3 linked regions of the Homo sapiens genome follow. The protein of the gene in region 2 interacts with the protein of the main gene of each other region in a biochemical or structural test. Each region holds a gene or a part of one and is shown on either strand. Other genes may lie near its edges. The genes, in order: JUP, DSG1 and PKP1.

Region 1 (7,107 bases), on a different chromosome or scaffold from region 2:
TCCAGCCTAGGCAACAGAGCGAGACCGTGTCTCAAAACAAAAAGGTGAGGGGGCCAGGCGCGGTGGCTCACGCCTGTAATCCCAGCATATTGGGAGGCCAAGGTGGGTGGATCACAAGGTCAGGAGTTTGAGACCAGCCTGGCCAACATAGTGAAACCCCATCTCTACTAAAAATACAAAAAATTAGCCAGGCGTGGTGGTGGGCACCTGTAATCCCAGCTACTCGGGAGGCTGAGGCAGGCGAATCACTTGAACCTGGGAGGCGGAGGTTGCAGTGAGCCGAGATCGCACCAATTGCATTCCAGCCAGGGATACAGTGCGAGACTCTGTCTCAAAAAAAAAGAAAAATAATAAAAATTTAAAAAGGCGAGGGCTGGCACAGAGACCTGTCGGGCAAGGTGGATGGCAGTCTGTCTGGGGGAGCCCTGGCTGCTTTCTCTGACCCCTGAGATGGGGACTAGGTAGGGAGCTGCCTCCCAGGCCCTGGGGAGGTCAAGGGAACATGGCTGAGGAGAAGGGGAGTGGAACTTCGCTCACGCCAGGTGGAGACACTGGCTGCCCTATGCCCAGTCCATGCTGCTTCCTGCAGCCAGGGGCAGCTGCACAGCCAGGCGTGAACATTCCCCACATAGCAGTCCCAGGGGGAAGCTGGGCTCAGCAGGATCTCCAGCCCCCACCTTCCCCACTCTGTCCCTGGCTCCTGCTGAGGTCTGGCCAGCAGTTCCAAGCACAGACACAGACTCTAGAAAGTCCAGAGAGATGGACATGATGGCTTCCCTTGAGGGCCTGTTTCCCTCTCAGGCTGGGGCTGCCCAAGGAGGCCTCTCCCCTCTGGCTGGCAGCTCCAGGACGGAACCTCCTGCAGACTACAGGTTCTCTGGCAGACACTGTGGTCTCCATCAGCAAGCTGGTCCATTCCAAGAGGGCAGAACTGAAGCAGGAGCTGTCAGACAAGCTGGTCTTAGGCTTCCGGAGGAAAACCCTCACTTCCAGTCTGGAGAGCAGCCCAGGCTGTGGCCTGAGGATGAGCTGGGGCCTGGGGGAGGCTCAGGCCTGCCGACCCAGCTGCTGTTTATTTTCCTCCTTCTGGGCTCCTTCCCAAAGCAAACAAACCCGGGTAGGAAAATGAAGGGGATTTGTAGGAGAGGGAATTTGCCACGGCCAAGTGGCTCGACCCAGGGACCTCTATGCTCCCCTGGAGAGGGCTCCAGCTGGAGCTCCGTTCCCTGCTGGTGACCCCCGTGGGCAGATTCCCAAACTGGCAGATGACCCCAAACCGGGACTCCTGGGAATGGAAAAACACTTCACCCCACACCAGGAAACAACAACAAAAGGTTGACGTGTGTTGGTGACGCAAAATACACAAGTACTCTCATTCCACTGCCTCCAACCACCACCAGTGGGGCTTGGGCAGCCTGGGGTCCAGGGGCGGCCCACTTCTCAATAACAGCAGCTCCGATCCCAGCTGACTGAGGCCCACTCCCTGGGGTGTGATTCTGCAAGGATCCCTACATATAACCCTCTCCTGGGAAGATCCATCTGTTTATTGTACAACACATGCTGGAAAACCAGGATTGGAATAAAGTTTTGGCTAAAATCTGTTACTGTAGGCAGGGTGCAGTGGCTCACCCCTGTAATCCCAGCACTTTAGGAGGCCAAGGCAGGTGAATCCCCTTGAGCTCAGGAGCTCCAGACCAGTCTGGGCAACATGGCGAAACCCTGTCTCTACAAAAAAATGCAAAAATTAGCCGGGCGTGGTGGCATGTGCCTGTAGTCCCAGCTACTTGGGAGGCTGAGGTAGGAGGATCGCTTGAGCCCAGGAAGAGGAGGTTGCAGTGAGCTGAGATCTGCACTCCAGCCTGGGCAACACAGTGAGACCCCATCTCAAAAAAAAAAAATGTTACTATATACAGGGGATGAGCTCATCAAGATCAAGGCTAAAGAACAAAAGGATGTTGCCGAGCACGGTGGCTCATGCCTGTAATCCCAGCACTTTGGGAGGCCGAGGCGGGCGGATCACGAGGTCAGGAGATCGAGACCATACTGGCTAATACGGTGAAACCTCATCTCTACTAAAAATATAAAAAATTAGCCGGGCGTGTTAGCGGGTGCCTGTAGTCCCAGCTACTCGGGAGGCTGAGGCAGGAGAATGGCATGAACCCAGGAGGCGGAGCTTGCAGTGAGCCGAGATCCTGCCACTGCACTCCAGCCTGGGTGACAGAGCGAGACTCCGTCTCAAAAAAAAAGAAAAAAAGGATGCTAAGAAAAGAGGAAGAGACTTGGCTGGGCGTGGTGGCTCATGCCTGTAATCCCAGGACTTTGGGAGGCCAAGGCGGGTGGATCACAAGGTCTGGAGTTTGAAACCAGCCTGGCCAACATGGTGAAACCCCGTCTCTACTAAAAATACAAAAAACTAGCCAGGCATGGTGGCAGGTGCCTGTAATCCCAGCTACTCAGGAGGCTGAGGCAGGAGAATCGCTTGAAACCAGAAGGCAGAGGTTGCAGTGAGCTGAGATTGTGCCACTGTACTCCAGCCTGGGCAACAAGAGCAAAACTCCGTCTCAAAAAAAAAAAAAGAGGAAGAGACCTTAATGAAAGTTGCTTTTTAGGATTATGGGCGATTTTTTTTCTTTTCTCTTAAACTTTTCTAAACTTCCCAATTTTTTTTTTTTTTTTTTTTTGAGACAGATGTCACCCAGGCTGGAGTGCAGTGGCACAATCTTGGCTCACTGCAAGCTCCGCCTCCCGGGTTCACGCCATTCTCCTGCCTCAGCCTCCACAGTAGCTGGAACTACAGGTGCCTGCCACAACGCCCAGCTAATTCTTTGTATTTTTTAGTAGAGACGGGGTTTCACCATGTTAGCCAGGATGGTCTCGATCTCCTGACCTCGTGATGCGCCCGCCTCGGCCTCCCAAAGTGCTGGGATTACAGGCGTGAGCCACCGCGGCTGGCCCCCAGTTTTTTTTACAATGATCAGATATTACTTTTTTTATTTTCTTTCTCTTTTTTGAGACAAGGTCTCGCTCTGTTGCCCAAGCTGGAGTATAGTGGCACAATCATGGCTCACTGCAGCCTTGAACTCCTGGGCTCAAGCAATCCTTCCGCCTCAGCCTCCCGAGTAGCTAGGACCACGTGCACATGCCACCATGCTTGGCTAATTTTTTTTTTTTTTTTTAAGAGATGGGGTCTTGCTATGTTGCACAGGCTGGCAGGCTGGTCTCAAAGTCCCGGCCTCAAGCAATCCTCCTGCCTCAACCTTCAGAGCGGTTGGGATTACAGGTGTAAGCCACTGCCCCAGCCAGATATTACCTTCTCAATCAAGGAAGAGGAGGAGTCTCCCCTAAATAAGCAGCTTATTGATTGCCAAGCCCCTGTCCCAACTCTGCTCTGGTCCCTGCTACTGTCTCCATGGTAGGGAAAGACACAGAAAGCTGAGCTTCAGCTGGGCATGGTGGCTCATGCCCATAATCCCAGCACTTTGGGAGGCTGAGATGGGACAAATGCTTGAGCTCAGGAGTCCAAGACCAGCCTGGGCAACATAGCAAGACCCTGTCTCTACACAAAACTTTAAAAATTAGCTGGGCATGGTGGTGCACACCTGTGGACCCAGCTACTTGGGAGGCTGGGCGGGAGGATTGCTTGAACCCAGGAATTCAAGGATGCAGTGAGCTGTGATCACGCCACTGCACTCTAGCCTAAGGGACAGAGCGAGTCCCTACCTCAAAAAAAGGAAAGAAGGCCGGGCGCAGTGGCTCACGCCTGTAATCCCAGCACTTTGGGAGGCTGAGGTGGGTGGATCACTTGAGGTCAGGAATTCAAGACCAGCCTGGCCAACATAGTGACACCCCCATCTCTACTAAAAATACAAAAATTAGCTGGGCATGGTGGCGCATGCCTGTAGTCCCAGCTACTTAGGAGGATGAGGCAGGAGAATTGCTTGAACCTAGGAGGCAGAGGTTGCAGTGAGCCAAGACTGCACTACTGCACTCCAGCCTGGGCGACAGAGCAGGACTCCATCTCAAAAAACAAACCAAAAAAAAAAAAGAAAGAAAAGAGAAGAGGAGAAGGGAGGAGGAAAGAAAGCTGAGTGCCAAAAGCGGTGGCTCACGCTTATAATCCCAGCATGTCGGGAGGCCAAGGTGAGTGGATCACCTGAGGTCAGGAGTTCAAGACCAGCCTGACCAATATGGTGAAACCCCGTCTCTACTAAAAATACAAAAATTAGGCCGGGCACAGTGGCTCACGCCTGTAATCCCAGCACTTTGGGAGGCCGAGGCGGGTGGATCATGAGGTCAGGAGATCGAGACCATCCTGGCAAACACAGTGAAACCCCGTCTCTACTAAAAACACAAAAAAATTAGCCAGGCGTGGTGGCGGGCGCCTGTAGTCCCAGCTACTCGGGAGGCTAAGGCAGGAGAATGGTGTGAACCCAGGGGGCGGAGCTTGCAGCGAGCGGAGATCGTGCCACTGCACTCCAGCCTGGGCGACAGAGTGAGTGAGACTCCGTCTCAAAAAAAAAAAAAAAAAAAAATTAGCTGGGCGTACTGGCAGGCGCTTGTAGTCCCAGCTACGCGGGAGGCTGAGACAGGAGAATCACCTGAACCCGGGAGATGGAGGTTGCAGTGAGCCAAGATTGTGCCACTACACTCCAGTCTGGGTGACAGAGTGAGAGACTCCATCTCAAAAAAAAAAAAAGAAAGAAAGAAAGAGAAAAAGAAAGCTGAGCTTCCTGCTCTGCTGGCCCCAAAGGCCAAGATGCCAGGAGGCTGAGCAAAGGAGAGTGGTCCATGAGCTTGCCCTTCAGGCCTGGCAGAGGAAGTCGCTTCACAATAAGATATTCCATGTCCCCAGACTCAACCATGTCCCAGGAGAGGCCGCTCAGTGTCACTTGCAGGAACACAAGCCCTGGTGACCTGCCCAGCCACACTGCTTGCTTTTCCTCTTCACAGGGGTCACAGGACCAGCTCACAGATGCCTTTCCCTCTCACTGCCAGGTCGCTCTTCTCCCAAAAGATACAAATGAGGAGTCTCCCCAAAGGGCAGCAATTCCTGTCTGGCCTCCCTGCCGCACAGGATGGCCCTCATCAGAGAAGAGTCAATGCTGAGTCTCCACCTCTCCCTCTTATTTCTCAACTCAAGATTTCATCTTTAGCAGGCAGAAAGCCCCTCCTCCTGTCTAGACTGCGTCCCTTCAGTAAGTGCATCGGGCCTGCAGCTCTCAAGTCCTCGGGGGAGATGGAAAAACTGCAACCTCATGCCCTCTTTGTAGTAGTCAGTGGGATGGGGTTCATTCTGTTTTCTTCTCTGTCTCAAGTCCCATTAGCCTTCTCCACGATCAATAATCCCGTTGCCTGGGGTCCCCGCCTGCCCTCAGGGAATCCAGAAGCGCGGTAGTGACAGGTTCAGTACTCCGGCTGCACCATCACATAAAGAGAACCCATTTCCCAGACCCCAAATCCAGGCCCATTCTGGTGTCAGATGTCCAGTTGGCAGAGACACCAGAACCAGGCAGGTCTGGAGAACAATCTGACACCAGCTCCTCCCTAGAGGGCCAAGGCTCTGGCTGACAGGCAGCACACATGACCCCCACCTCCATCACCAGAAAAGCCCTCCCAGCAGCTGCCTATCTCAGGTCTCTTGGGCTTCAGAGCAGAGGACAGCCAGTTCCCCATCAAGAGCAGCCTGGCAGCACTGCCTCGTCAACTCCAGCAGGACATTAGCCCAGGCCTAAATCGGACTCTCGTTTCTCGCCAATCCCCACAGGGCAGCACCCCTTTATCTTGGCATAGCCCCAGCCCCCAGCAAAGCAGGCAACTCCCACTTCCTACACATGAACAAGCCCAGAACAGCCATGGTTCTACCTAACCCAAGCTAGGAGGCAGCACAGCTTTGACCCCTGCCTCCTCTTTCCCTCTCAACCTCCCCCCAACACTCACCACAGCCCTGGCCTTGGGGAGAAGCCGCTTCCACCGGAAACTAAAAATCAAGCCACTGGGGAGATTTAAGTGGGCTGGTGGCCAGGACAGGTATCACCCCCACCTACAAAACCTGCCCTACATTCACCACTCACACATGCCTTCATGGGCCCTTCTGAATTCTCTTCTCCCCAGTCAGGCAGAGGCTCTCAAAAGGGGGTGCAGAAAAATCCTTTCCGCTCACACCTGTAATCCCAGCACTTTGGGAGGCTGAGGCGGGCGGATCTCCTGAAGGTCAGGAGTTCGAGACCATCCTGACCAACATGGTGAAACCCCATCTCTACTAAAAATACAAAAATTAGCCTAGTGTGGTGGTGCATGCCTGTAATCCCAGCTACTCGGGAGGCTGAGACAGGAGAATCGCTTGAACCCAGGAGGTAGACGTTACAGTGAGCCGAGATCGCGCCACTGCACTCCAGCCTGGGTGGCAGAGCGTGACTCCATCTCAAAAAAAAAAAAAAAATCCTTTCCAGAGCTGCATGGGGCAATACAGCAGGATGGGTTCTGGGCTTGGAATCAGAGGACCCAAACGTCAGTCTTGGTGCTGCTTGGGTCTCGCTGTACAACATTGGGGAAATTACTTAAGTTCCTTGAGTTTCAATTTCCTCCTCTGTAGAATGCGAATAATGATACGCGTTTTTTTTGTTTTTTTTTTTTTTTTGAGTCAGGGACTCACTCTGTTGCCCAGGCTGGAATACAGTGACACAGCTCACTGCAGCCTTGACTTCCCTGGGCTCAGGTAATCCTCCCACCTCAACATTCCCAGTAGCTGGGACCACAGGCATGCACCACCACGCCCGGCTAATTTTTCTATTTTTTTGTAGAGACAGGGTTTCTCCATGTTGCCCAGGCTGGTCTGGAACTCCTGGGCTCAATCAAGCAGTCCACCCTTCTGGGCCTCCTAACGTGCTGGGATTGCAGGTCTGAGCCATCCAGCCTGGCCAGCCATAAGGATTAAGTAAAAATAGTTAATGAAAGTGCTTGGTTTGGGCCAGGTGAGGTGGCTCACGCCTGTAATCCCAGCACTTTGGGAGGCCGGGGCGGGCGAATCACGAGGTCAGGAGATCAAGACCAGCCTGCGCAACATGGTGAAACCCTGTCTCTACTAAAAATACAAAAATCAGCCGGGGG
Region 2 (7,107 bases):
TTGAACCGAACTGAAATTCTGTAAAATATGAGCAGGAGTTTTTAAGAGTACTTTCATCACTCAGGCTAAAATACACAGAAAATAATACACATTTCATTACATAGTTCCTAAACTTACTTGAAGACATCTTAAGTCCCCAAAATTGTGTTCACAGATGCCTAAAGCAAGAGAAGAACTAACAAATTAGTACAGACCAAACAGAAGACAAGCAAAAGAGAGAGCTCTTTGTGCTTTCTTGAGCGTGTATTATAGTGATATGTAGTATAGAGATCAGTGTTTCAGTAAAATATTTTGTAGAAAATGGAAGGAATATTTCTGTTCACGTATTCAGTGAAACTTACAAATTGCATTCAAGTGTCATCATTAACAGTTATATGGTGTTCATAAAAGCTTTATTATTTCGCTGTAGATTTAGGATTAGCATCTTCTATCACCTTTACAGAAACAAGGAGTACACATTTATCATCGCTCAATTGGTTTGAGTTGCCACAAAGTAAAAACATTTTGTCATCCCTGTTTTAGGAAAAGAGTAGAAACTAAAGCACTGAAGAATGCTGTCTTAAATCTGAAAGGCTGACCCTAGAATAAGATTCACTTATTTAACAAATCTCATCAATCTAGAAAATTATCTTATCTATACCCAGAGCACTTAATTTCTGGTAACTCTTTCTCCACAACACATTCATCAAAGACCTGGTTGCTGAGTATCCCTGTGTCCTAATAGACATTGCCTAACATATCAGCAGGAAGCCTGCTGTGCCAGGCACCGCAATTAGATTTATAATGCTCCCTCATCTCAGGGAACACCCTTGCCCAGTGCTGGGTCATGCCACCCTTGCTGATTATGCTTGATATGCAAATTCCTTCAATAGACTTAGACAGATCAAATTTTTTTAAATGCCATTGGCTGCTGATCCATGCTCTTAATTGGTCTATGAGAATAGGCCACAGTTTTTCATACTCGTCTAATGAGAAATCATATCTCTACAAATTAATGGTTGCCTGTTGCTCTCAAAACTGCAAGACTGTAAGTTATTTGAAGGCAGGTTCTGTGTCTGATTTGCCTTTGTATCCCTTATGGTGCCTTGCACCAGTGCAAGATTGCTCAAAAGATGTCTAATCACACACAGCAGAGGTACCACAAGGAAGTTTCTGGATAGTTTATACAGCTCTTCCCCCACACACTCCAAAAAATTATCACGCTATTAAACATAGAAATAATAATACTGGATTTCCCCAACATTTTAATGGTGTAGTATTAAATTCATTTTACATTTCACCTGAGACTTACTATAATATTTTCAGGCCTTTAAAAGTCTTAATCTAGTGTTGGATCCACATAATACACATTCAGTATGTACTTGTAAAATACACAAACGAAAAGAATAAATTAGAGAATTCAACCCATTAAGGTGCTGTCAACCTCAGACTGATACCCTTTGTCAGAGCAGTACAAAGGAAAGATAAGAGGAGGTTTTTAAATAAAGCAAATTGTGATATTTTAGCTTTGTTTCAAGTGCATCCTTGCGATGTATATAAAAGTTAACAATTACATTAGAATTGAATGCTTAACAAAAACGTAACAATTATGTTAGAATTCAACGCTTAGCAAAAAGTGACTTGGAAGACCATCTCACAATTATTAAATGCAAGAGATTTTTTAAATAAAAATAGCTTGTTACTCTCAAACCCATTTTTATTATGTGCAAGGAAGCATGAACTTCAATATTAAAAAGGAAAACATTAAAAATTACTGTAATTGGGGATTTATTAAAATTAGCCTGTGATTTTGTCTCCTGTAGCTTTTAAAAAGTACATAAATGGATTGGTTCCTAAAACAGAAATGAAGGGGAAACTCATTGAGGATGTATTTCAGGTGAATTATTTACTGTTTTCATAGAATTTTAGGACTAGAGGGGACTTTTAGTCTCATATACAGCTGAGGAAACTGAGCACAGATTGATTTAATGACTTACCCCAAAGTCCCTATCCACTGGGCAAAACAGCTGAGATATACTCAGTCAGCCTGATAACCTCTGTGTTCATCTCTAGGTAAATCTCCATCACAGCCTCCATAGCACAGACTCCAAACTCATTTGGGAATCCAAACTTCTCCCCTAATTGTCAGAAAATAACCTCACCCTTACTCCAGGGACAAGGTCTAGGTCATTTAGGAGAGTGTCCTCCAATTTCCCTTCCCCAGTTTATTGATTTTAATCTCCATCCACCTCACCCTTACTCCAGGGACAAAGTCTAGGTCATTTAGTACAATGTCTTCCAATTTCCCTTTCCTAATTGATCGATTTTAATCTCTATCTTTCCTTGCCTTTGTCTTTGAGGTCCTTTCTTTTTCTGCCCATTCTCTCCTGCTCTCCCTATCACAACACTTCTATGAGAATCTTCCTGCTGAACATCTCTTCTTTTAAATCAAAATCTCCTCCTAGCTTCTATCTTAACTTTCAAAAATCCTTAGGTTACCCTCTCTCAAAAAAAAATGCTACTATCTTGTCCCTCTGTTCCCTTTTATCACCAATGTCTTGAAAAAGTGACCATCTTTATGTCCTCCTCTCCTCCTCTCATTTCCTAATCCCTTGCTGTCAAGCAAGTGCATGTTCCATCCAGCTAAAAATATTCTCTTGAAGGTCCCTCAGAACCTCAGGATTTCCTCAGAATTCACTCTGCTCAACTTTTTTACCTCATCTCTTTCAACCCCATCTGTCTTTCCGTTTTCCTTTTCCTCTGACCTCCATTATAATGCATTATATTTTCCTATTGTTTCTTTCGCCATTCCTTCTCTCTTTCGCCACTCCTTCTCTCCTTCCTTTTTTTTTTTTTTTTTTTTTTCTTTTTTTGAGACAAAGTCTTGCTCTGTCCCCAGGAGTGCAGTGGTGCAATCTCGGCTCACTGCAACCTCCGCCTCCTGGGTTCCATTGATTCTCCTGCCTCAGCCTCCCAAGTAGCTGGGACTACAGGCACGCACCACGACGCCCAGCTAATTTTTGTATTTTTAGTGGAGACGGGGTTTCACCATGTTGGCCAGGATGTTCTCAGTCTCCTGACCTCGTGATCCACCCGCCTCGGCCTCCCAAAGTGCTGGGATTACAGGCGTGAGCCACAGCGCCCGGCCCTCTCCTTCCTTTTTTTTTTTTTTGTTTGTTTGTTGTCGTTGTTCCTAGTTCTATAAATGTAGGAACTCTTCTAGTTTTATCCTCAATTGCAGGCTGATTCTTGACTGTATCCTCTACTTTGGAAATTTCAAATTCTCACGATTTCAACTATCCTGCCTGAGCAGATCTACCTCAAATCTACATATCCAGCTTGAACTTTTGCTCAAGTTTTGATCCATGTTTCCAATTGCTGATCATCTTCACCCAGGCATTATCTGGCATCTCAAACTCAATGTGTTCTAATCTGCTAAATTCTATTACTGTCTTGTTCCCAATCCCACAGTTTAAAACTGCCATCCCCTGAGCTTCCTCCCTCTCTCGAACACCCCCATCCCATTTGTTCTCAAGCCCTGCCAATGCTATGCTGCAGTATCCCTTGATCTTTCCCCATCCATTCCCTCTGTCTCTGCTCCAGCGTACCTCCTTCTCACCTCCAGTCTGCTTTGATACAGAGACCCTCAACTGCTCACCGTCTGTAATCACTGCCTCTTCCCACTAGTCCTACCAACTGTTGTCAGAGTTAGCTTTAAAACCACAATTTTATCATGCTCTTCTCACATCTAAATACTTCAATATTTTCCTACTGCACACAGGCATTTAATATTACAGCTGGAAAGTTACCTGTATAAAATTTAGTCTACTCTTGTCATTTTACAAGTGAGAAAACTAAAGTTCAGAGAATTGGGGAAATACGTTGAAGATTTTCCAACTCTATCAAGAGTCAGATTTCACTATTTTGCCTTTGAAAGTCCAAGAGTGACTTTGTATCAGAGTTTATTCTAGACTCTGAGCAACAGAAAATAAGCTTACACCAACCCACCACATTTTTAAGCAGACTTGGCGGTTTTTAGATTACAAATCCAGTTGAGAGTCTGACTGTATGGTGAAAGCTACTTGGTCTTCTGCCCAAATTGTCTCTCATGGGAAAAAGAGTGACCCAGCTTCATAAAGCTGGAAAGATTTCTTAGTCATCTGCATAGCTTTCCAAAACAAACAGCAAGCACTGGCGCTCCAATGCAGTAAGGGAAGCGCAATAACAGATAACAGATCCATGCACAATTCTGTAGCTATGAAGAAATGGCTTTCAAACACACAAATAAGGTATGCCCATCTCCCATCCCACACTCACAAACAAGAGAGAGGGAAAAGTGTTCATAAATTCACAGGCAGCAAGGAGCATGCATTTACATGAACACCATTTCATCATTTCAGTTCTGCACCCAAGATGGGCTCTACAGATAACATTTCAGTTACATGTTTTAAAATTTGGGCCATTTACTTTTCTTTTTTTTTTCTTCATGCTGTATTCCTATTGTCGTATGTAAATATCACCAATCACAAGGATAATAGGTTAGTTTAAAATCAGAATTTTTTGAGTTCTTGAAGTTGCAATATAAATTCTTTGTAGCATGCTTTTCTTAGTAGTAATTTACTTGAGGGAATAGGCTATCTCATATTTTATTGTAAAACCCACAGCTCAAGTGAAAATTTATGCTAAATTGTATTGAATTATATTTAGCCATAGGTTAATATCCAAGACTCAATTTCCTCATCTGTAAAATGGAGATAGTATTAGTGGTGACCACATGTATTTGTTGTAAAGATTAAGTGCATAGATTTACATAAATACATAACCTAATACCTAGCTATTATTTAACAAATTATAAGAGTAATAACAATCATAATTATTAATATTAGATACACAATGGATATGTAATTCTCATAATAAAAACATTATCTTTTTATACTTCTCATATTGATCATAAATACTTATTTTCTGAATTATCTATTGTGGCAATTTTTTTAAAGTAGATACTTAGAGACATTAAGTTCATATTTTCTTTAATGCTACAATTAAAATTAACTATAAAAAGAACTTTTTTATATTTTTAAATTACTACTGTTAGTATTTTTAAATGTAAACTATAATTTTCTTATATCAGTTATACAAATAAAGTTTTCATACTTTGCAATTCTGAATAAATTCAATTAAAAGTTAAAAATTTCTTATTTAGGGAGAAATACAAGTACAAAATAATAGTAATAAAAAGAAGAGTAAATTGAAAGGTAAAAACAAAAATTCTTAGCATCATCATCAGACCCAAGACATAAACCAAATCCACCTGCTATTTGGCTGATAAAATAATTTTAATGACTCACAAGCCTATGGTTTCATGTTGTTTTTAAAGTAACTGGATAATATAAATTTTAAAGCATTTAATTAAAAAATAACTAGTGTGATTATCTTATTTTTTACAGGTGGTGGTAGAAGTTAACAGTGAATTCCGAATCCAGGTAATATATAACAAATCCATTTTTCCAAATTTTTAAACAAGAAAATAATTTGAGAATAACAATATGTTTTCTGAAGAAAATGTATTCTCATAAGTCAAGTTCATATAATGCTAAAATTAATAGATTACCAAAATTACCAATTTTCCCAATTAAACATCCTCTATTTCTGAGATTATAACCTCTTCCAAAAATCTCAGTGGAATTTGAATTACGAATTCAAATTAATATATACCATTTCTTTATTGCTGTCATTTAAGGTAAGAGATTATAACACTAAAAATGGCACCATCAAATGGCATTCAATCCGAAGGCAGAAACGTGAATGGATCAAGTTCGCAGCAGCCTGTCGTGAAGGTGAAGACAACTCAAAGAGGAACCCAATCGCCAAAGTAGGTATCAACTCCAAAGCATAACATTGAAAATCAGAATGGATAAAGTTTCAAAAGAAACTGTCTGCTAAATATTTCATGAACATGTCTCACCGAGAAGCTACGATACAGAACAGAACTATAGTCACCTAGATGATGAAAACTGAAACTCATAAGGAGAAATTAAGAAATGCAGGTGCTCAGAGAAACAGGCAAACGTTGACTCACCTCATTGGTGAAATGCATACACATGATCATGTGTTATCCCAAACTCCAGATGAAAAAAGATCATTATTTTAATAAAGAATTTGGCTTTCAGCACATTCAAAGGAATTACTTCAATGTGTGCTCTTTTTGCCTCACAATGTATTAGAATTGAATTCCTACTTTTTTGTTTGTTTATTAACATTCACAAGGTGCCCTCTCTCATACCCCTTTTCTATTCATTTTTCCATATCTTCCTTTCTACATACACACACACTCAGAAACACCCCCCACAAATTCATGAACATACAGATGTACACGTCCACAGATACACACACGAATATACACATTCATCCACACAGACACTCACAAATACTCCCCACTAGGATTTGTTTACAGCCAAACAATATTTTATTTCAAAGAAAGAGTTCTGGTTTCTATAACCATTTATTCGCGTGGTCTCCTTCCTTTTCTGCTAATACACCCTTCCCATTTTCAGAATTCAGAGCTTCCACTCAAACCCAGATAACTCTTGTCACCTAAATAAATCTACTTTCTTCGAAAACTTTACATTTAAAACAAATTGAAGATTAAAGTTGCATGATGACAACATTGATAAACTCCTTAAGAGGGCAAAGAGTTTCCTTCTGTAGCTCCAGTGCAAGCACAGACCCTGCAAATAATACAAGATCAAATTTTAACTGTTGAATGAATGAAGTCATGCATGATGATTGCATAGACTTAGATATAGTAGGGTGATATTTCGCATTTTTTCATGTTTCATAGAAGCAGAAACCGAATTTCTTTGATTACATTGTCAGTTACCATTGAAAATATTAGAGCTGTAATTGTTACTCTTATCTAGGAAAATAATCTCCATTGACAACATTTCCTAAATAACAAGGTCATCACATGCAACAACTCTCAAGAAAGCTGTCGTATATCAAATATAGAACTCTATTTGCTCCCTCTAATATTTTTACTTGTGTTCCTTCTGCAGATTCACTCAGATTGTGCTGCAAACCAGCAAGTTACATACCGCATCTCTGGAGTAGGAATTGATCAGCCACCAT
Region 3 (7,710 bases), on a different chromosome or scaffold from region 2:
ACAGGCTCCAGGGGCCCTTCCTCCAGTCCTCAGTGGCTCAATACTCCCTCAGTGACAAGAGAGAAAAGAGCACTAGTGGAGAGGAACTGAGAAGCCACTTCTATCACAGGACCAAGGATGGCTGGTCCTGACTGTCCTTCCTGGGGTACAAGGAGCAGTGGCTACTCTTCCAGGCAACCTGTGGGGTATGGTTGGCCCTTCTTAACTAGGGAAACTTTGGATGGGATTCAAGGGGCTCAAGAAGACCCTAGGTAAACTGACTCTGCTCTTGGAAGAGACTAAACAAGAACCTGAATCTGTCCAGGGGGCGAGGGAAAACGCCTGGGGCATGGTCCTTCCACAGCTACCAGCTCATTCCATTCCAGGAACCAAAGCAGGCTCCTGACAGGTAAACCAGCATAAGAAAGAGGGAGCAGAGTGAGTAGAGGTGGCCGCAGAGCAAATAGGGGACGTTTGGGTGTTTCTGATGGAGAAGACAAGGAAATCTGATGAAAACTAAGCCAGATAAACCAGAAACACCAGCTCCAAGTGACCAAACCGCCTCTTCCAGCAAGGATGCCTCTGCAGCCTCCTTTAGGAACCTCCGCAGAGTCTGAGGGTAGAGGGGACACGCCCACAGGGCTAGACCTTGGAGTTTCTGGAGAGGTAGCCATCAGCATCAACCCTCCCCCAGTGAAGCCCCCTGGGGGACCTTGGGAGGAAAAACAAAGAGGGAACAAAGGAGACCTTATCAGATAGAAGTTCCCCACAAAGACCAAGCCCAGAAAGTGCACTTCTTGCTGACAGACACTCAGCCAATATCCCGATAGGTAGGAGGAAAAAGGGGTCCTTGGGGCACCCAGGGCCGGTTTGAGTTTTCTGGAGTTGTGAGCCAAGAGCTCAGGCTGGGATGGAGTGGGAGTGGGAAGGGGACAGCCAAGTCTTGTGCAGAGAGGAGAGTAGGTTGAGCTGTGCTCTGGGCTGTAGCCAGAAATGGGGGCACTTTGTTATTCCAAACCTAATTCTAAAGAGGCTAGGAGGCACCTACCAAGGCACCAAATAAAAGGGAAGGAGGCAAGTGCTCTGGAGGTGGCATGATCTTGAGTGGAAATGTGACGAGAGGAGCCTGGAGCCCACACAAAGGCAAAGAGCACACAGAGAAGCAAAGGCCTTTAGGTCTGGGGCCCAGGAAGTCCTCTGCCGGCCATTTTCCTTCCCTCGGCTCTACAAGGGGCCACTCAGGAATGGGGGCTAGGGAGTAGGTGGGGGGACAGAAGCCACAGGTAGAAGGAAGTGTGAGGTGTGTGTGTGTGTGTGTGTGTGTGTGTGTGTGTGTGTGTGTGTGGTGGAAGGGCCAGGGTCGGTTTCTTTTGTCTCCTTCCACCTTATTACCCCCTGCCCCTCACTCTCTCCTAAGGCCTGTCTTAATACATAAGTCTTGGTTGACCTGTACTGTTTGGTAATGGGTAAAGTCTTATTAGCATTTTACTAAACTTAGCTAAATAAAATAAGTAAATAAATAAACAAGTGGAATCTTTGCTCACTTGTGTGTAATTCTTACCAGGCATCCTTTGTATCAAAGTGTTTACTTGGTCTATAAGCTCTCCCCTGTCAGGTACTGCCCCTTCCTCCTTGAGTTTCCTGGGTGCTGCCCCTTTCTCCCAGGTTCCCCCAGTCATGGGATCTGGCCTCTCAGAGGCTGGAGGAGGGGGTGCCAGGCCCGGGATCCAGCTTGGAAAAGTGCCCGTGAGGGTTCAGCTGGAGGTCTCCCTGGGGCCCGGGGGGATTTCCAACCTGCCATTCCGTACTCTCCCCATGAGACACTTGTTTCTACCTAAGCTGGGTGGGGTAAGAAGAATCCAGTGGGAAAGAGGATTTCTGCATTGGCTATTCGGGAAAGAAAGCATCCCTGACCCCCTTCCCTGTCGTCAAGGGACCCACTGGCCCTGGGGCGGCCTTCCAACTAGGCTAGCCTCTTTCAGGAGGCTCTCGATAAAGTGCCCTGGAGTTCCAGGCCCTCGTCCCTGCTCCCTGTGCCACTTTCCCGTCCCGCAGCGCCTCTCCTGAGCTGCACTCCTGTCTCAGCGACTCCCTCACCCCGCTCGCGGATACTCATGCGCGGCCCCACAGGGACTGGGGTTCCCCTTGGCCTGGACGCTGGGCATCGGCCTCCAGCTGAAGGCCAGGAGATCAAGCCCAGGAAGGGTGAAGGGTGGCCCACAACCGTTTGCGAGCGCGGGGACCATGGGCCCCAGGACAGCCGGGGCCAGACAGGATGCAGGGCAGATCCCTAGAGCAGCATCCGAAAGAGAAAGCCGTCCAGACCCAGGGCTCAGGGACAGGAGAACCGCTCGCGGGGGATCCTCAACCTCCTGGCACGCTGGGACATGCTCCTGGCTGTGTCCCGGTGAATCACCCATCCTTGCCCACTAGCGCGCCATCGAGCTCGCGGGGCCGTCGAGCCAGCCTCGGGTCGCGTTTACACCAGCTCAGAACCGGCTGGGAGCTCGGCTGCTCGCACTAGGTGCGTAGACCCTGCCTGGGGCCGGCAGCCCCTCGCCTCCCCTCATCCCCGGGGATGCGTGCGTCTCTTGGTCCCCGCCACTGGGCCAGGGTGCTCTGGAAAGGGGCGCACGGACCACGCGGGGGCCGAGCCTTTACCTCGATTGGAGTGGCTCAGGGTGGACGACTGGGAAGACTTGGACTTCTGCCGCTTGACGGTCATCATCACCTGCTCCTGCACGCGCTGCCTGCCAGACGTGCCTGTTTTCATCTTTTGGTCCGACGGCAAAGCCAACGTGGAGTTGTCCTGGTCCTGGAAGCATTCGTACGCCAAGGCGGTCTTGAGCGGCGAGTGGTTCATGGTGGCGGGAGGCGGGTGGCGCGCGGCCGGGGCCTAGGAGAGCAGAGAGGCGAGGCGAGGTGCGGTGCAGCGGGCGGGCAGGAGCGTGCTCTTCTCGCTCTCAGCGGCTCCCTACGGCCATAGAGTGCGTGGTCCGCGTGAGGGCTCCCTGCAGCTGCTCCTGGCGCTTCCACCCTGGTTCGTCCCTCTCTGGCACTGGCGAGGCCCGCCCTCCGTCAGACAGGATATACCACCCCTGCCCTGCACCACCCACTCCACCGGGCCGCGCGCTGCTGCTGCTCAGACGCGGAGCTGCAGGGCACTGCTGCTGCGGAGCCAGCGCTCTTGGGGGCAGGGCTGCGAGTCCCCTGTGTGGGACGCTGGGCGCCTTCCTGCTCGCTCTTTTTTTTCTCTCCCTTCCCTCTCCCCATGAGCAAGAAACGTCGCAAGCCTTGAGGCCCCAGGGAGACGCCCCTCTGTCCTGTTCTGCCGGCTCACTGAGAAAGCATGTGCTCAGCTCAGGAACCGAGGGAGACCTCTCTCTAGGAAAGAAAGGAGTCTTTCTTGACCAGGCTGCCCAGGAGAGCCAGGCGTCCATCTCCCTCTGTACTGAGGTCATAGCAGAGACCAACCCCGGCGGTGGAGGCTCCCGGGCTGATGGCAGAACCATAGCTCTTGCTCCAAAGGAGTGCTCCATCTTATGGGGGTAACCCAGTCTACTCTAAAGGAGCTTCCTCTGAAGAAAGTGGGGTAGGGGCAGTAAGGCCACATCAAGGAGCAGACTTGGGATATCAGACCACACAGTGGGTATGCCTTGGTAAAACCGGTGGTTATTTGTTGTTCATGAGTATACCCCGGTAAAACACCACGTGAACAGCGGATCCTCTCTGAAACTCCACTATAACCTCTAAAACAATGCCTGGCACACATAATATTAGGCGCTTAATAAAAAATATTTTAAATAGGTGAATACGTGAATGCTAGTTAATTTAAGGTAAATTAAATCTAACTCGGATCCTAACCAGATCCTCACTGAAAAATTGAAAAGCTGCTTTACCCTGAAATTTCACTCTGGACTTATTATTCTGGGACCACTGTGTGCATTCCCCTATATACACTCACCCCTGGGGACACATGTGCAGTGAAGCTTTATTCATGTAGCATCCTCTCCAGGCGTGGAGGGAGCCCACATCAGTGAATTTGGTGTGTAACAGGAGCTGAGTGTTTTTTTTTTTTTTTAAGTATTTACTTTGATGGAAATCTTTCTAAAAGGTATCGCATTCTGTTTGCCTCCTAAAGCAAACAACACTGAACATATTTGCTGTACTTCTTGATGCCCTGGGTTTCTCATTCTGGACATCCATTACTGAACTGTGTAGTCGTGCTGTCCGGTCAGTTTCTTAGTTTTGGGGCCTCCACCAGTGTGTGACACTATCACAGCCGTCACTCTTGCTGTCATTTGAGGCTGCCGCTCACAGCTCACATATTTTACTTTTAGTTTGCTCTTCTAATCTACAGAGGAAAGGACAATCAGAAATCTATTCTTTTTGGGAATTTTATGTCGAGGAAGGATCAAGAAGACTGAATGACTGTCTCAGGGACCATGTACATGAAGGTCACTCACGCAACTCCTGAGATGTGGGTGTTACATGCGGGGAGCCCCAGCTTTCCCAAGGAAGGTATTCCTAGTAGCAATTTGCAGAGCAGATTATTGTAAAGCAGATTATAGTTTCCAATAGAAACAGTTTTATTATTGAGGGCGCTGTTCCTAAGAACTTAACCTCAAGTAAACCAGAGATGTGATAAAAAATATGTCATAGATGTGTACAAAATACCTGTAAACCTCTATTATCACTTCATATTGTAAGATTCTGCCTCTAGCCATAGACCGCCAGGACTGGACAGAGCCTTGGACTTCATCCAGCCAAGCACTGCATTTCACTGATTAGGAGAGGAGGTAGCTTGCTTGCAATGCCCCAGTTAATATGTGGCAAAGCCTGCATCCTAACCAGGCCTTGTGACTCCTGGCACAGTGCTCATTCCACCACATCATCCAGCTTCCCTTATAAAAGTCCTATAAAATGGACATTAAAGTACAGTGCACACCGATTATATAAGGGCCCCAATGTACTGTAAAGTATACACAGCAGCATATAAAAATACAATTCTATTGTATCACACATTTGGCCTATCTAAAACCTAATATGCTAGCCATAATAAATGTTAATTACATCTTTAAATAACGATAATTTTCCTATTCTAGGATATAGAAGGGCCCTGAAGGAGGGGATTAGAGTAGCTCATCTTCCTATAAAAGGCAAGTCCGTGGAAGCAGAACTGATTATCTTTAAAATTGTTTCCAGGTATGAAGTTCAGTTTTTCTAGCTACTTCTCTACTATGTTAATATTGACATTATTTTGACATATTGATAGCAATAGCATTTACTATGCTCCTCCAAACACCATGCCTACCAACCAGGCATTGTTCTGAGCCCTGTACACGAACCACATCATTTAAATCCTTACAATGACCCTATGAGGTGGGCACCATCACCCTTCTTTTTCAGATGAGGTAACTGAAGTTCCATGAGGCCACCCAGCTGGCAACAGGCAGACAAGGCAACTGCAATCCAGAGCTGGACACTCAGTGGCAGTGCCAGGCTGCCGCCTCGAGATTTCTCTGTGACAAGCAGATCCTTCTCTGGATAGGTATTTTAACAGCATCCATTCCCATCACAGGGCACGAAAGTCAGGCCAGCTGGGTTCCTGATCTAGTTGTGTCACTAACTAGCTTCATGTTAGACAAGTGCCTTCCTCCGTCCCTTGCACCAATCTACAAAGAGAGCGGGTAAACTTCGTGGCTCCTAAACTCCACTCTAGCCCCAACATTCTATAATTCTGTCGATTGTGGGGATTTGTAGGGCAGGACATCTTGAATCAGGCCCTTCTGACAGAGGAGGAGAGGAAAGAGAAGTCAGGTTACACATTCTGGGCCACGGTGAGGGAGATATACTCAGGCTGGGAGGATTGGTTTGGGGCTCAGGTATATGGTTTTGAGCCAGCAGGCCAATGCTATTTCCATAATCTCTCTCTCTCTTCTGCCTGCCTGAGCCCCACCCTATGTGGGGCCTGTCTCAGAAATCAACCAGCAAGGAGGCTAACACTCCTAAAGTGAAGAAAAGATGTCAAGGAGGCACAGTCACATGATCCTGGCTCTGAAATGGCATGCTTTCAGGTGACTGTCAGAACATATATTTAGATGTTAAAATTCTAATGGATATGGGTTAATTTTGGCTTGGAAGGTGTTGGGGGTGATCAGGGGGAAGCATCCTGAAAGAAGTTAATTTTGACTTGATTCTGAAATAAGATGAGTATATTTTCATCCTCAAAGGAATGAGTATGAACGGGCTTCTAATTCTCTTTGCTGCCTCCTTAGAGCATTAAGTGTGACCCAGATTTCCCTTTCAACATTCTGGCTCCCAGACTTCACATCCTGTCATCTCTATGTTCATTAAAAAGTGAAATATGAGTTCATTTACTCAACAAGTATTGACTGAGCATCTGCTATGTGACAGACCTTGTCCCAGGTACTAAGGATACAATGGTGAGGAAGACAAAGTTCCTGCTCTTACAGAATTTACACTCTGTCACTCTCACTCTGTGCAGTGGTGTGTCTTGACTCACTGTAACCTCTGCCTCCCGGGTTCAAGCAATTCTCCTGCCTCAGCCTCCTGAGTAGCTGGGATTACAGGTGCGCACCACCATGCCAGGCTGATTTTTGTATTTTCAGTAGAGACAGGCTTTCACCATGTTGGTCAGGCTGTTCTCAAACTCTTGAACTCAAGTGATCCACCCACCTCGGCCTCCCAGAGTGATGGAATTACAGGCATGAGCCACTGTGCCTGGCCTAGAGCTTATTTTCTACAGGAGAGAAGGAGAAGGCTGGGCCAGGAGTGGGTGGGGGCTATCCCAAGGAAGGCTGAGAGGAGGTCTCTGGGGCTCCTGCTGCTTCTAAGAGTGTCTGGGCTGAATCTTCTCCCTTCTCAGTTTCCAGCCCCCCAGGTGAGGGGACCACCTCTAGCTGAGCCCCTCACTGACGCAAACACCGCAGGAGCGTGGAAGAGGTAGGTTTTCTTCCTGGATCCCTGGGCTTGCTGGGTGGCCCCATCTTATTCAGCCCAGTCCGTCTGCAACTGAACTTCCTGGACAGCGGCCACGGGGCCAGCTCCCTATTGTGAAAGCTTTTCTGGATGACATCCTTTGGCCAGTTAGCAGACTCCTCAATGGCTGCTCAACTCAGGAATCTTATAACCTTCCCTGATGAACTCGCACTGCCCCCTCCCTAGTCTCTAAATCGCCTCTGTCTTTTCTCCTGCATTATTTTGTTTTCATCCTAGCACTCACCCCATGCAGCCACCTGCCCCTTACCTTTGCATATTTGCTGTTCCCTCTGTGTGGAGCACTGTCAGTCAGTCACTTAAATACGTACCGAGTGCCTAAAGGGGCTGGTATCACCATGTCAACCCTGGGGATACAACGATGAAAAAGACCAGATCTTGCTCTCATGGGGCATATGTTCTAAAGACATAGACAAAGAGTCGATCTGTAAATGATTGCAAATTATATTAAATGCTATGAAGGAAACAATGAGCGGCTTAGAGGCTGCAGAGAGGGACAGCTTTAGCCATGGTGACCAGACTGTGACAGGCTGAGACTTGAAGCATGAGAGGCAGCTGCCCATCTCAGGAGTGAGGGAAAGGGCTCTGGGCAGAGGAAATGGTGAGTGTACAAGCCATGAACCTGGCATGTCTTCAGAACAGACAGACCAGGGAGACCAGGCAGGTGGGCACAAGATGGGCAGGCAGGCAGTACTGTCCTGTAAAGCTTTC

Evidence for each region.
Region 1: the proteins of DSG1 (region 2) and JUP form a complex in vitro, tested with the Homo sapiens proteins (2 studies listed by BioGRID and IntAct).
Region 3: the proteins of DSG1 (region 2) and PKP1 form a complex in vitro, tested with the Homo sapiens proteins (2 studies listed by BioGRID and IntAct).

The regions. Positions count from the first base shown.
Region 1 is NC_000017.11:41,776,674-41,783,780, forward strand, and holds part of JUP (junction plakoglobin), read right to left. Parts: intron 1-7,107. UniProt on the Homo sapiens protein: Common junctional plaque protein. The membrane-associated plaques are architectural elements in an important strategic position to influence the arrangement and function of both the cytoskeleton and the cells within the tissue.
Region 2 is NC_000018.10:31,321,155-31,328,261, forward strand, and holds part of DSG1 (desmoglein-1 preproprotein), read left to right. Parts: intron 1-5,426; coding exon 5,427-5,462; intron 5,463-5,719; coding exon 5,720-5,851; intron 5,852-7,034; coding exon 7,035-7,107. UniProt on the Homo sapiens protein: Component of intercellular desmosome junctions. Involved in the interaction of plaque proteins and intermediate filaments mediating cell-cell adhesion.
Region 3 is NC_000001.11:201,278,835-201,286,544, reverse strand, and holds the start of PKP1 (plakophilin-1), read right to left. Parts: upstream 3,040-7,710; 5' UTR 2,843-3,039; coding exon 2,641-2,842; intron 1-2,640. UniProt on the Homo sapiens protein: A component of desmosome cell-cell junctions which are required for positive regulation of cellular adhesion.